2 separate regions of the Homo sapiens genome follow, and region 1 is linked to region 2. Evidence: fine-mapped expression QTL. A gene starts in region 2. The other region holds a variant in brackets. All regions are shown on one strand. Distances are between the middles of the regions.

The links. PIP is the estimated chance that this variant, and not a neighbour inherited with it, causes the effect.
Region 1: its variant is fine-mapped to the expression of SNX29-AS3 in neutrophils (BLUEPRINT, PIP 0.95).

Annotation. Positions count from the first base shown.
Region 1 is chr16:12,649,308-12,654,688 of GRCh38, forward strand. It overlaps LOC105371088 (a long non-coding RNA gene), which reads right to left and starts at 4,066. Exons shown (of 2, transcript XR_933085.3): 1 at 3,882-4,066; 2 at 2,477-3,201. The variant A/G (reference allele first, on the strand shown) is at 2,687.
Region 2 is chr16:12,608,071-12,613,451 of GRCh38, forward strand. It overlaps SNX29-AS3 (SNX29 antisense RNA 3), which reads right to left and starts at 3,072. Exons shown (of 4, transcript XR_007064988.1): 1 at 2,668-3,072. RefSeq lists a cis regulatory region at 4,536-4,915 and an enhancer at 5,076-5,381.

The sequences.
Region 1 (5,381 bases), 41 kb after region 2:
AAAAAAAAAACAAACAAAAAACATACTCCCTTGTCAAGCCTAAAACCCCCTCCCCAGCCTCTAGCTCTGGCTTATGGGAGTCAGTTGCAGAGGTAGAATGGACAAGAAATGGGACTTGAGATCAACATTGTGGAATGTTGTAGCAATCAGGCCTCTTTTGGTTTGCAAACAACAGAAAACTGACTGAAGCAAAGAAAGAAAGTTATTGGCAGCCAGGCACTGACTAGCTTCAGGTATGGCTAGACCCAGGGGTTCATTCTGGTCCCTTGCTTCTTTCTTCTTATTCTCTCTTCTCCCTGTTTCTCTTCCCTAGTTTCTTCTATGATGGCTACATTCCTTGGTAAGCTCTCTTCTAGGTGGGATCCCCCACCAGTTCCAAACATGCACCACCCCTTCCAGCGAACTCCAGTGGAAAGAGATCTTCTGCTAATACATCCAACGAGAAGCCTGGGATACACATCCTTGGTTTGACTTGGGTTCTGTGGCCCTCTGTGACACCCCTGGCATGTGGCCAGAACTGTGGCACCTGATACCTCACAGGTACTTCTGCTTCCACCATGGCAAAGCCCAGGATAACGCCAGTGCCATCTAAACAACAGAAACTAATGTCGGGGATAGTAGGACCTCCAAAGTACAGTGAGAAGGCATAATGGGCCAGGCATGGTGGCTCATATCTGTAATCCCAGCACTTTGGGAGGCAAGCAGATCACTTGATGTCAGGAGTTCAAAACCAGCCTGACCAACATGATGAAACCCCCTCTCTACTAAAAATACAAAACTAGCTGGGCGTGGTAGTAATCCCAGCTACCCGGAAGGCTGAGGCAGGAGAATCACTTCAACCTGGCAGGCAGGGGTTGCAGTGAGCCAAAGTTGCACCACTGCACTCCAGCCTGGGTGACAGAGCAAGACTCTGTCTCAAAAAAAAAAAAAAAAAAAAAAAAAGGCATAATGGATGCTGCACAGGTGTCCATCATAGGTGGGTGGTTCCCATGGACAGTAAGTCACCCTGGATGGAGGTTACATTTCGGTGGTCAGAAAGACTGTTAATCAAATCCAAGAACCTTCTATAAAAGAGAGATGAGTCACCAGGAAATCACTGGGTGATTTCCATGAGAAGGAGCCATCAGATATATCCCTGGCACAGAGTAGGTACTCGATAATTTGCTGAATTAATGTAGAAATGAGTGTAAAGTCTGGGCACAGTGGGTCACACCTGAAATCCCAGCACTTTGGAAGGCTGAGGCAGGAGGATAGCTTGAGCCCAAGAGTTCAAGACCAGCCTGGGCAACATAGCTCCCTACCCCATCTCTACATTTTTTTAAAAAAATTAGCCAGGTGTGGTGGTGCACGCCCGTAATCACAACTACTTAGGAGACTGAGGCAGGAGGATGGATCACTTGAGCCCGGAAGTCAAGGCTGTGGTGAGCTATGATCAGAGCACAGCACTCCAGCCTGGGCCACAGAGCAAGACCCTGTCTCTAAAAAGAAAAAAGGAAATGAGTGAAAGGCAGTGGAGGGCACACTGGGGAACTGGAAGACCCCTAGCTGGTTTATGGGCATCGTGGAAAGTGGCACATGGAGGAGGGAACAGCTTCTACTCAGAGGGAGTTGCAGACAAAGTAAAACGAGGAGTAAGAGGGGCTCAGGACTCAGAGGAGAGGCTGAGAATGCAGGGGGATTTGCTTCACAGAAACAAGAGCTCTGGGGGCTTCAGTGGAAAATTGAGAGAAGGAGGGGCAGGAAGGGGGAAAGGAAGCGTGCTGTGTGTGTGCACAAGAACACAAGTCTGGGCCCAGCGTGGCAGTGCACACCTGTAATCCCAGCACTCTGGGAGGCAGAGGTGGGTGAATCACTTGAGGCCAGGAGTTCGAGACCAGCCTGACCAACACATGAAACCCCATCTCTACTGAAAATACAAAAAAAAAAAAAAAGAAAAAAGAAAAATTAGCTGGGTGTGGTGGCACACACCTGTAGTTCCAGCTACTCGGGAGGCTGAAGCACGAGAATCACTTGAGCTGGGAGGCAGAGGTTGCAGTGAGCTGAGACGGCAGCACTGCACTGCACTCCAGCCTGGGCGACAGAGTGAGGCTCTGCCTTAAAAAAAAAAAAAGAGAGAGAGAAAAAAAACCCAAAAACCAGAAGACTGGATTGACAGATTGAGCTAGAGTCTGCATGGAGAGGAAGGATGATATGGGTGGGGGACATGGTGGAATGAGCTGTCCTCAGGGTGCCATATAAAGTCCTGGAAGCAAACTGGAGTCTGGCGATTGGTCCTGTGTTTGGATGGAAAAGCAGAGGTCACTGGGGTTGAGAAGTGTCTGTGTGAGAGAGAAAGAGAACCTGGAGGTCACCTCCTTTCTCCCCCAGTGGCGCATGGCTTTTATCTTACTGATTTTCTGGAACTGAATGATGTAAACCAAGAAGAAAGTGTTGTTGTCAAATTGACATTCTCAGTCTGTAATTAACTACTCCTTTCTGTTTTTAAACAAAGCATACTGTAAAATTTATTAGTATCAATGAATATTTGTATCCACGCTAAATCTTTTAGGTATTGAACTGTTTCCTTTATGTTAGGTCTGATTTCATCACAATAAATGGTACCCAGGGGCATGATGATTGCATTGGTTGTTTAATCTGAATTTTGGATGCCTGGCAAAATCCATGCCAATACAATTAGCTTTAGAGC[A/G]CCTGACGGATCCGACTGGAGCCAAGATCAGCAAGGTGTCCACGACAAAGAGGAGCAGACATGAGTTCCCAATTTCTGGTTCCCCAGGATCTGATGTGATCACCTGTGGAAAAAGCCCATCATGTACTGAAAGGGTGTTAAAATTATCAGCCCTGCTGGGGAGATGTTGCTGAACTGTCTACACAACATCAAAACGCTTGTTTTCTTAAATGATAATTAGAGCAGCTCCATGGGAGAGCTAGTTCATAAAGACGCTCCCCGTGAAACTGCTCCATCCACACAAACAAGCCAGACGCGGTGCTGTGACCAGAAGGGCAGAGGCCACCGCTAATTAGACATGACATCAGCATTTATACTCTGCTGACCAATTACGTCGGAAGAAGTAAATAAAGCTAATGAAACTTTCCTTTCATCCAAGCTAGGAGCTGCAGACTCTCCGTAGGTGAGTAACGTTGGCCCAGAAACGCCTCTGCTGGAGATCTTTCGGGTAATGTGTGACTTTATTCCTAGAATTCCTTGGAGAGAAAAAAAAATACTTAACTAAATTGAATAATGAAATAAATAAACTTGGTTCCATTTGTCAGTGGAGACATAATTTGAGGATGAAAATAATTTACTTACTTTTTTTTTTTTTTGAGGAGACAGAGTCTCACTCTGTTGCCTAGGCTGGAGTGCAACGGCAATTCTCCTGCTTCAGCCCCCCGAGTAGCTGGGATTATAGGCGCACACCACCATGCCTGGCTGATTTTTGTATTTTTAGTGGCGATGAGGTTTCACCATGTTGGCCAGGCTGGTCTCGAACTCCAGACCTCAAGTGATCTGCCCACCTTGACCTCCCAAAGTGCTGGGATTATAGGCGTGAGCCACTGCTCCCGGCCAAAAATAATTTACATTCCAGTGTCTGATTCCAAGAGGAGCAGACCTGCTTCTTCATCTAAAAGAAGAAAGCCTGGGGTCCTATTTGTGAACATGCTTTATCCTTTTTGGGTAAGGGAGTACATATGTCATTCCAACTCCCCCTGCCACAGAAGGCTAGAGGCTTGGTACAGTGGAGGGGTAATTGGTGCTGGGACCACAATGCTTGGGTTTGAATCCCAACTCTGACACTCACAAGCTACGTGACCTTGAGCAAGTTCCTCAGTGTCTGAGGTCTCAGTTTTCTCATCTGAAAAATGGGAATAATCAAAATACTTACCTTGGTGGGGTTGTTTTTAGCGCTCAGTGAGTTCATACATGGGAAGTAATCACAATAGTCTCAGGCCACGTAGCTGACGTCTCAGCTGCCTGCTCCTTTATAGACAAGAGGGAAAGTTTGTTTTGTTCCTTTGAAGCTGCATTATAAAAAAATTTGACTGCTGCTGTGCTATCAAATGTAGTTTTTTTTTGTTTGTTTGTTTGTTTTTGAGACTAAGCTTCACTCACTCTGTTGCCTGGGCTGAAGTGCAGTGGTGCAATCTCGGCTCACTGCAACCTCCACCTCCTGGGATCAGTGATTCTCCTGCCTCAGCCTCCCGAGTTTCTGGGACTACAGGCATGTGCCACCACACTCGACTAATTTTTGTATTTTTAGTAGAGATGGGGTTCACCATGTTGGCTAGTTGGTCTCGAACTCCTGACCTCAGGTGATATCCCCCCACCTCTGCCTCCCAAAGTGCTGAAATTACAGGCATAAGTCACTGCACCCAGCCCAAATCTAGCTTTAAGAACCCAGTCTGGGAGGCTAAGCACATTTTAAGGGGGACCATGGGCCCCTCATGGATGCACGGCTGGGCTCTGTGCTGGGGGATGAGGGTGGAGGAACAAACACGTGATGTTTGAAGATGATCAATGTCATGATTATCTATTATGCAAATACTCTGCACAGACACAATGGACAGTGCAGAAGCATTTGGTTATATTCTGCCAAGATTTGCTCATGTATCAGTGCTAAGGTGTCAAGAAGGCTCATGTTAACCTTAAGGGAAAGGTACTATATTGTCCCCATTTTATAGATAAAGAAACTGAGTCTCAGAAACAGGACATGACCTACCCAAGGCCGCAGAATCATTGAGTGGCAGAGCTAGCAATGGAACCCAGGTGGCCCAACTCCATCCCTTTAACACTTCTCCCTTCCTTTTCTTTCTTTCCTTCCTTTTTCTTTCTTTTTCATTCTTTCTTTCTTTTTCTTTCTTTCTTTCTTTTTCTTTCTCTTTTTTCTTTTTTCCTTTTCTCTTTCCTTCTTTTTCTTCTCTTTTTCTTTTTCCTTTCCTTCCTTCCTTTCTTTCTTCTTTCTTTCCTTTCTTTCTTTTTCTTCTCTTTCCCTCCCTCCCTCCCTTCCTTCTCTCTCTCTCTCTCTCCTTTCTTTTTTTTTCCCAGAATCTCTCTCTGTTGCCCAGGCTGGAGTGCAATGGCACGATCTGGGCTCACTACAACCTCTGCCTCGTGGGTTCAAGCGATTCTCCTGCCTCAGCCTCCCGAGAAGCTGGGACTACAGGCGTGCGCCACCACGCCTGGCTAATTTTTTAATTTTTAGTAGAGATGGGGCTTCACCTCGTTGGCCAGTCTGGTCTCGAACTCCTGACCTCAAGTGATCCACCTGCCTTGGCCTCCCAAAGTGCTGGGATTACAGGTGTGAGCCACCGTGCCTGGCCCATTTTTAACTGTATCTGTCTTTCTAGCATTTTCTGCACGTTAAGGAGGCCACCGATGGCGAAGC
Region 2 (5,381 bases):
AAGAGAATAATACACCTAGAAATCCAACTTACAAGGGATGTGAAAGACCTCTTCAAGGAGAACTATAAACCACTGCTCAATGAAATAGAAGGATACAAACAAATGGAAGAACATTCCATGCTCATGGGTAGGAAGAATCAGTATCATGAAAATGGCCATACCGCCCAGGGTAATTTACAGATTCAATGCCATCCCCATCAAGCTACCAATGACTTTCTTCACTAAATTGGAAAAAACCTTAAAGTTCATATGGAACCAAAGAAGAGCCCACATTGCCAAATCAATCCTAAGGCAAAAAACAAAGCTGTAGGCATCACACTACCTGACTTGAAACTATACTACAAGGCTACAGTAACCAAAACAGCATGGTACTGGTACCAAAACAGATATAGATAAATGGAACAGAACAGAGCCCTCAGTTGTAGATATGTGGCTTTATTTCTATCTGATCTTGGACAAACCTGAGAAAAACAATGGGGAAAGGATTCCCCATTTAATAAATGGTGCTGGGAAAACTGGCTAGCCATATGTAGAAAGCTGAAACTGGATCCCTTCCTTACACCTCATACAAAAATTCAAGATGGATTAAAGACTTCAACTTTAGACCTAAAACCATAAAAACCCTAGAAGAAAACCTAGGCATTACCATTCAGGACATAGACATGGGCAAGGACTTCATGTCTTAAACACCAAAAGCAATGGCAACCAAACCAAAATTGACAAATGGGATCTAATTAAAGTAAAGAGCTTCTGCACAGCAAAACAAACTACCATCAGAGTGAACAGGCAACCTACAGAATGGGAGAAAATTTTTGCCAGCTACCCATCTGACAAAGGGCTAATATCCAGAATCTACAGAGAACTCAAAATTTACAAGAAAAAAAAGTCCCCATCAAAAAGTGGGCAAAGGATATGAACAGACACTTCTCAGGAGACATTTATGCAGCCAACAGACATGAAAAAATGCTCATCACTGGCCATCAAATGCAAATCAAAACCACAATGAGATACCATCTCACCAGTTAGAATGGCAATCATTAAAAAGTCAGGAAACAACAGGTGCTGGGGAGGATATGGAGAAATAGGAACACTTACACTGTTGGTGGGACTGTAAAGTAGTTCAACCATTGTGGAAGTCAGTGTGGCGATTCCTCAGGGATCTAGAACTAAAGATACCATTTGACCCAGCTATCCCAATTACTGGGTATATACCCAAAGAACTATAAAACATGCTGCCATAAAGACACATGCACAGATATTTATCGCAGCACTATTCACAATAGCAAAGACTTGGAACTAACCCAAACGTCCAACAATGATAGACTGGATTAAGAAAACGTGGCACATATACACCATGGAATACTATGCAGCCATAAAAAATGATGAGTTCATGTCCTTTGTAGGGATGTGGATGAAGCTGGAAACAATCATTCTCAGCAAACTATGGCAAGGACAAAAAACCAAACACAGCATATTCTCACTTATAGGTGGGAGTTGAACAATGAGAACACATGGACACAGGAAGGGGAACATCACACACTGGGGCCTGTTGTGGGGTGGAGGGAGGGGGAGGCATAACATTAGGAGATACACCTAATGTTAAGCAAGTTAATGGGTACAGCACAGCAACATGGCACATGTGTATTTATGTAACAAACCTGCATGTTATGCACATGTACCGTAAAACTTAAAATTATTGCCATTTAATGGATGGGGGAACTGAGGCCCAGATAGATTAAAAGGTTGAAGCTAATCCGTATACAAGTTTGGGTTAAAGTTCTGGCCTGTGGCTCACATGGCTTTTTTATATTTTGTTTGTATTTTTGAGACAGGTTCTTGCTCTGTTACACAGGCTGCAGTGCAACGGCACAATCATAGTACACTCCAGCCCCTACCTCCTGGGCTCAAGCCATCCTCCCTCAGCCTCCCAAGTAGTTGGGATTACAGGCACATATTGCCACACCCCATTAATTTTTGTGTTTTTAGTGGAGACAGGGTTTTGCCTTGTTTCCCAGGATGGTATCAAACTCCTGAGCTGAAGCCATCCTCTTGCCTCGGCCTCCCAAAGTGCAGGTGTTGTGTGAGCTACTGTGCCCAGCTATGCGTGCCTTGTTTATCCACAGAAGTGGTCAGAAAGCTTCCTGGGAGCAGGGCTGTGGGTTAAGGCTCTGACCAACCCACGCACATTCCCCATCTCCAAACACAATGAGCCCGTAGCAATGAACCCTTGTTAGCCGATTTCATCAACTGAATGCACTTTCCTCAGATCTGATTAGACAAACAGGCTAGCCTGAATCCCAGCTGGGGTGGGAAAGAGACACAGGGAAACAAAACACAACCGGCTATAAGCCAGGGGATGGCCAAGTATTTCTGTAAAGGGCCAAATATTTTTAGGTGCAGATCATGAGATTCCCATTGCCAACTATTCAACTGATGCGTGGACAAGGCTGTGTTCCAACTCACCTTTATTTACTAAACAGGTGGGCCAAAGTTTGCTGACCTCTGCACACTATGATCAATCTATTGAAAGCCAGTCATGGGGATGGGGGTACCTGTTAGATCTGAAAAAATGAGATCTGTCTCTGTTCTTTATAAAGTGGGGGAGGAAGGGCGGTATGGTAAGAAAATGAACAAATTCTGTGCTGAAGACTGAATAATGGTATTTACCTTTGATTTCTTGTTTACTGCATGTCAGGTGCCGTACATTATTCGCTGTAAGCCTCAAAAACTCAGGAAGATTTAGCCCCATTCTCCAGATAAATGAAGTGGCTCAGAGATGTTAAGTTGCTGGAGATCACATAGGCAGGATTCTAACACGAAAGCTTATTCTCATTTCGCTATGTTCCACTGGGCCTGATCCAGTCTCAGCCTCAATTCTCCTGTTTGGGTGGTGCTATGTTATCCAGCAAGATGACCCTGCAAAGTCAATGCTGTGTATTCAAGGCACAATAGACAGTCTTCTAGAGGCAGTAGCCTCCACCTAGCACAATATGGTGACAAGGTAGCCCAAGCTGTCTGACCACTTCAGCCCAAATAATTTCACACAAGCATGAAAATTAGAGAAGATGTCATAATGGTGTCAGAGGGATTTGAACCAGAGCAACTCCATCTTGGGTAGGAGCTGGATAAAATGAGGCTGAAACTATTGGGCTGCATTCCCAGACGCTTAAGACACTTAGTCACAGGATGAGATAGCTGTATCTTGTGCCGACCTGTTTGCTGATAAAACAGGTTGCAGTAAAGAAGCCGGCCAAAACCCACCAAAACCAAGATGGTGCTTAAAGTGGCCTCTGACCGTCCTCACTGCTACACTCCCACCACTGCCATGACAGCTTACAAATGCCATGGCAACATCTGGAAGTTACCCTATATGGTCTAAAGAGGGGAGGTATGAATAATCCACCCCTTGTTTAGCATGTCAAGAAATAGCCATAAAAAAAGGCAACCAGCAGCCCTCAGGGCTGCTCTGTCTATTGAGTAGCCATTCTTTATTCCTTGATTTTCTTAATCACCTTGCTTTCACTTTACAGACTTGTGCTTTCTTTCTTTCTTGCAGGAGATCCAAGAACCATCTCTCTCGGGACTGCATCAGGAACCCTTTCATGTAACAATAATGGTAGAAGCACCTGGGATTTGGGAAAATCTTGGAGAGTACTTTGAATTTCTAAAAACCCATGAAAAGGGAGATTTTAAAAATTCACCAAGTGTTACCTAGATCTTTAGGGGTCCAGAGATGCCAACTAGTTTTGGGGCTCCACACCACAATGCAATAAAAAAAATGAGGCTGCTTTGGTCGAAAAGGGAGGTAACAATGTTACAGGCAAGGGGTCCTGATCCAGACCCCCAAGAGAGGCTTCTTGGATCTCGTGCACAAAAGAATTCAGGGGCAAGTCCACAGTGCAAAGCAAAAGTATGTTTATTAAGGAAGTAGCCTAAGTACTGTTAGCCATAGAGTAGGGCATTCCCAAAAGAAAGGGGAATGCATCCACTCTAGGTACAATGCTTGTTTATAGAGAATAAAAAAGATCATGAGGGGCCGGGCATGGTGATTCACGCCTGTAATCCCAGCACTTTGTGAGGCTGAGGTGGGGGGGATCACTTGAGGTCATGCGTTTGAGACTAGCCTACACAACATGGTCAAACAGTCTGTACTAAAAAATACAAAAATTAGCCAGGGGTGGTGGCACGTGCCTGTGCGCCCAGCTACTTGGGAGGCTAAGGCAGGAGAATTGCTTGAACCCGGGAGGTAGAGGTTGCAATGAGCTGAGACTGCACCATTGTACTCCAATCTGGACAACAGAGCAAGACTGCATCAAAAAACAAAACATCTTGATGAGAGACATGCTCTGCTACAAGGATTTGTAATAATTCTTAATTACTACATTTTACAAGAATCAGTATTATCTTCGAAGCGAAATTACGAATCCTTCTGTTCAAGGTATCAGGATAACATGACACTCCCACATCTGGGTCTCTTTAGTAAGCATTGAAGGATGTAATACCTCTTCCAAGATTTTAGCCTGTCAATTGTTAAGTACAATGAGTTCTGACATCCCATCCAAAGAGCCAATCTATCAGTACACGTTCGGCTCCCGTTTTGTCCATTTTAAAGTTTAACTTCCTCGTTCTCATCTCCTTGCCCCTAGTTTCAGTAAACAAGCTTTTCCACCAGTTCTAATCAGTAGGTCACATGTGTTGCCCTGGTCACCTACTCCATCCTGAGTCAACGCTGGTTACCTGCTCTGACTTCAATCATCGTGAGTCACCGGTTCTGTAGCAGTCATTCCTGCTTCTCAGACTTGTACCCACTGCTCTTTAAAATAGCCATTCGGAATTAGCTTACACTGTGGTCCAACCCTAGCCAATAGGGGAATGACAGCAGTAGAGGCTACCTGTCTCAGAAATAAGAACCCCTTCCTCTCCCTTGGTTCAGCTGTGCTCTCGCCATTGCTCCATCTGTAAGTCACCCTTCTATAGAAGTAAAATTGCCTTGAGGAAATTTTCAAGTGCTATTTCTTTTGTGGCATCAATAATTTTTAAGTGTTATTAATCTGTTCCCTTAACCAGAAACATCTAGAGGCCAAGAATAGCTACCAGTCCAGAATGCCGCCTCCCAAGTTCCAGCCTCATTTTCCTAGCCCTCATTCAGGACGGAGTTGCTCTGGTTCGAATGCCTCTGATAACAGACCCAAGAAGTTTCTTACTCATTCCCCCGTCTCCCCAAAGCCCACCCCCGCTGCTTAAAAAAAAAAAAAATTCACTGGGCTACTACATGGTGCTTGAGGTTGAAGTCTTTGAGCCTTGAGATTGTCATTTCAATGCAAATGTTTGTAAATTAGATGAAAGTCACAGATCAAGCCAGATAGAGGGGGAAGAATAGG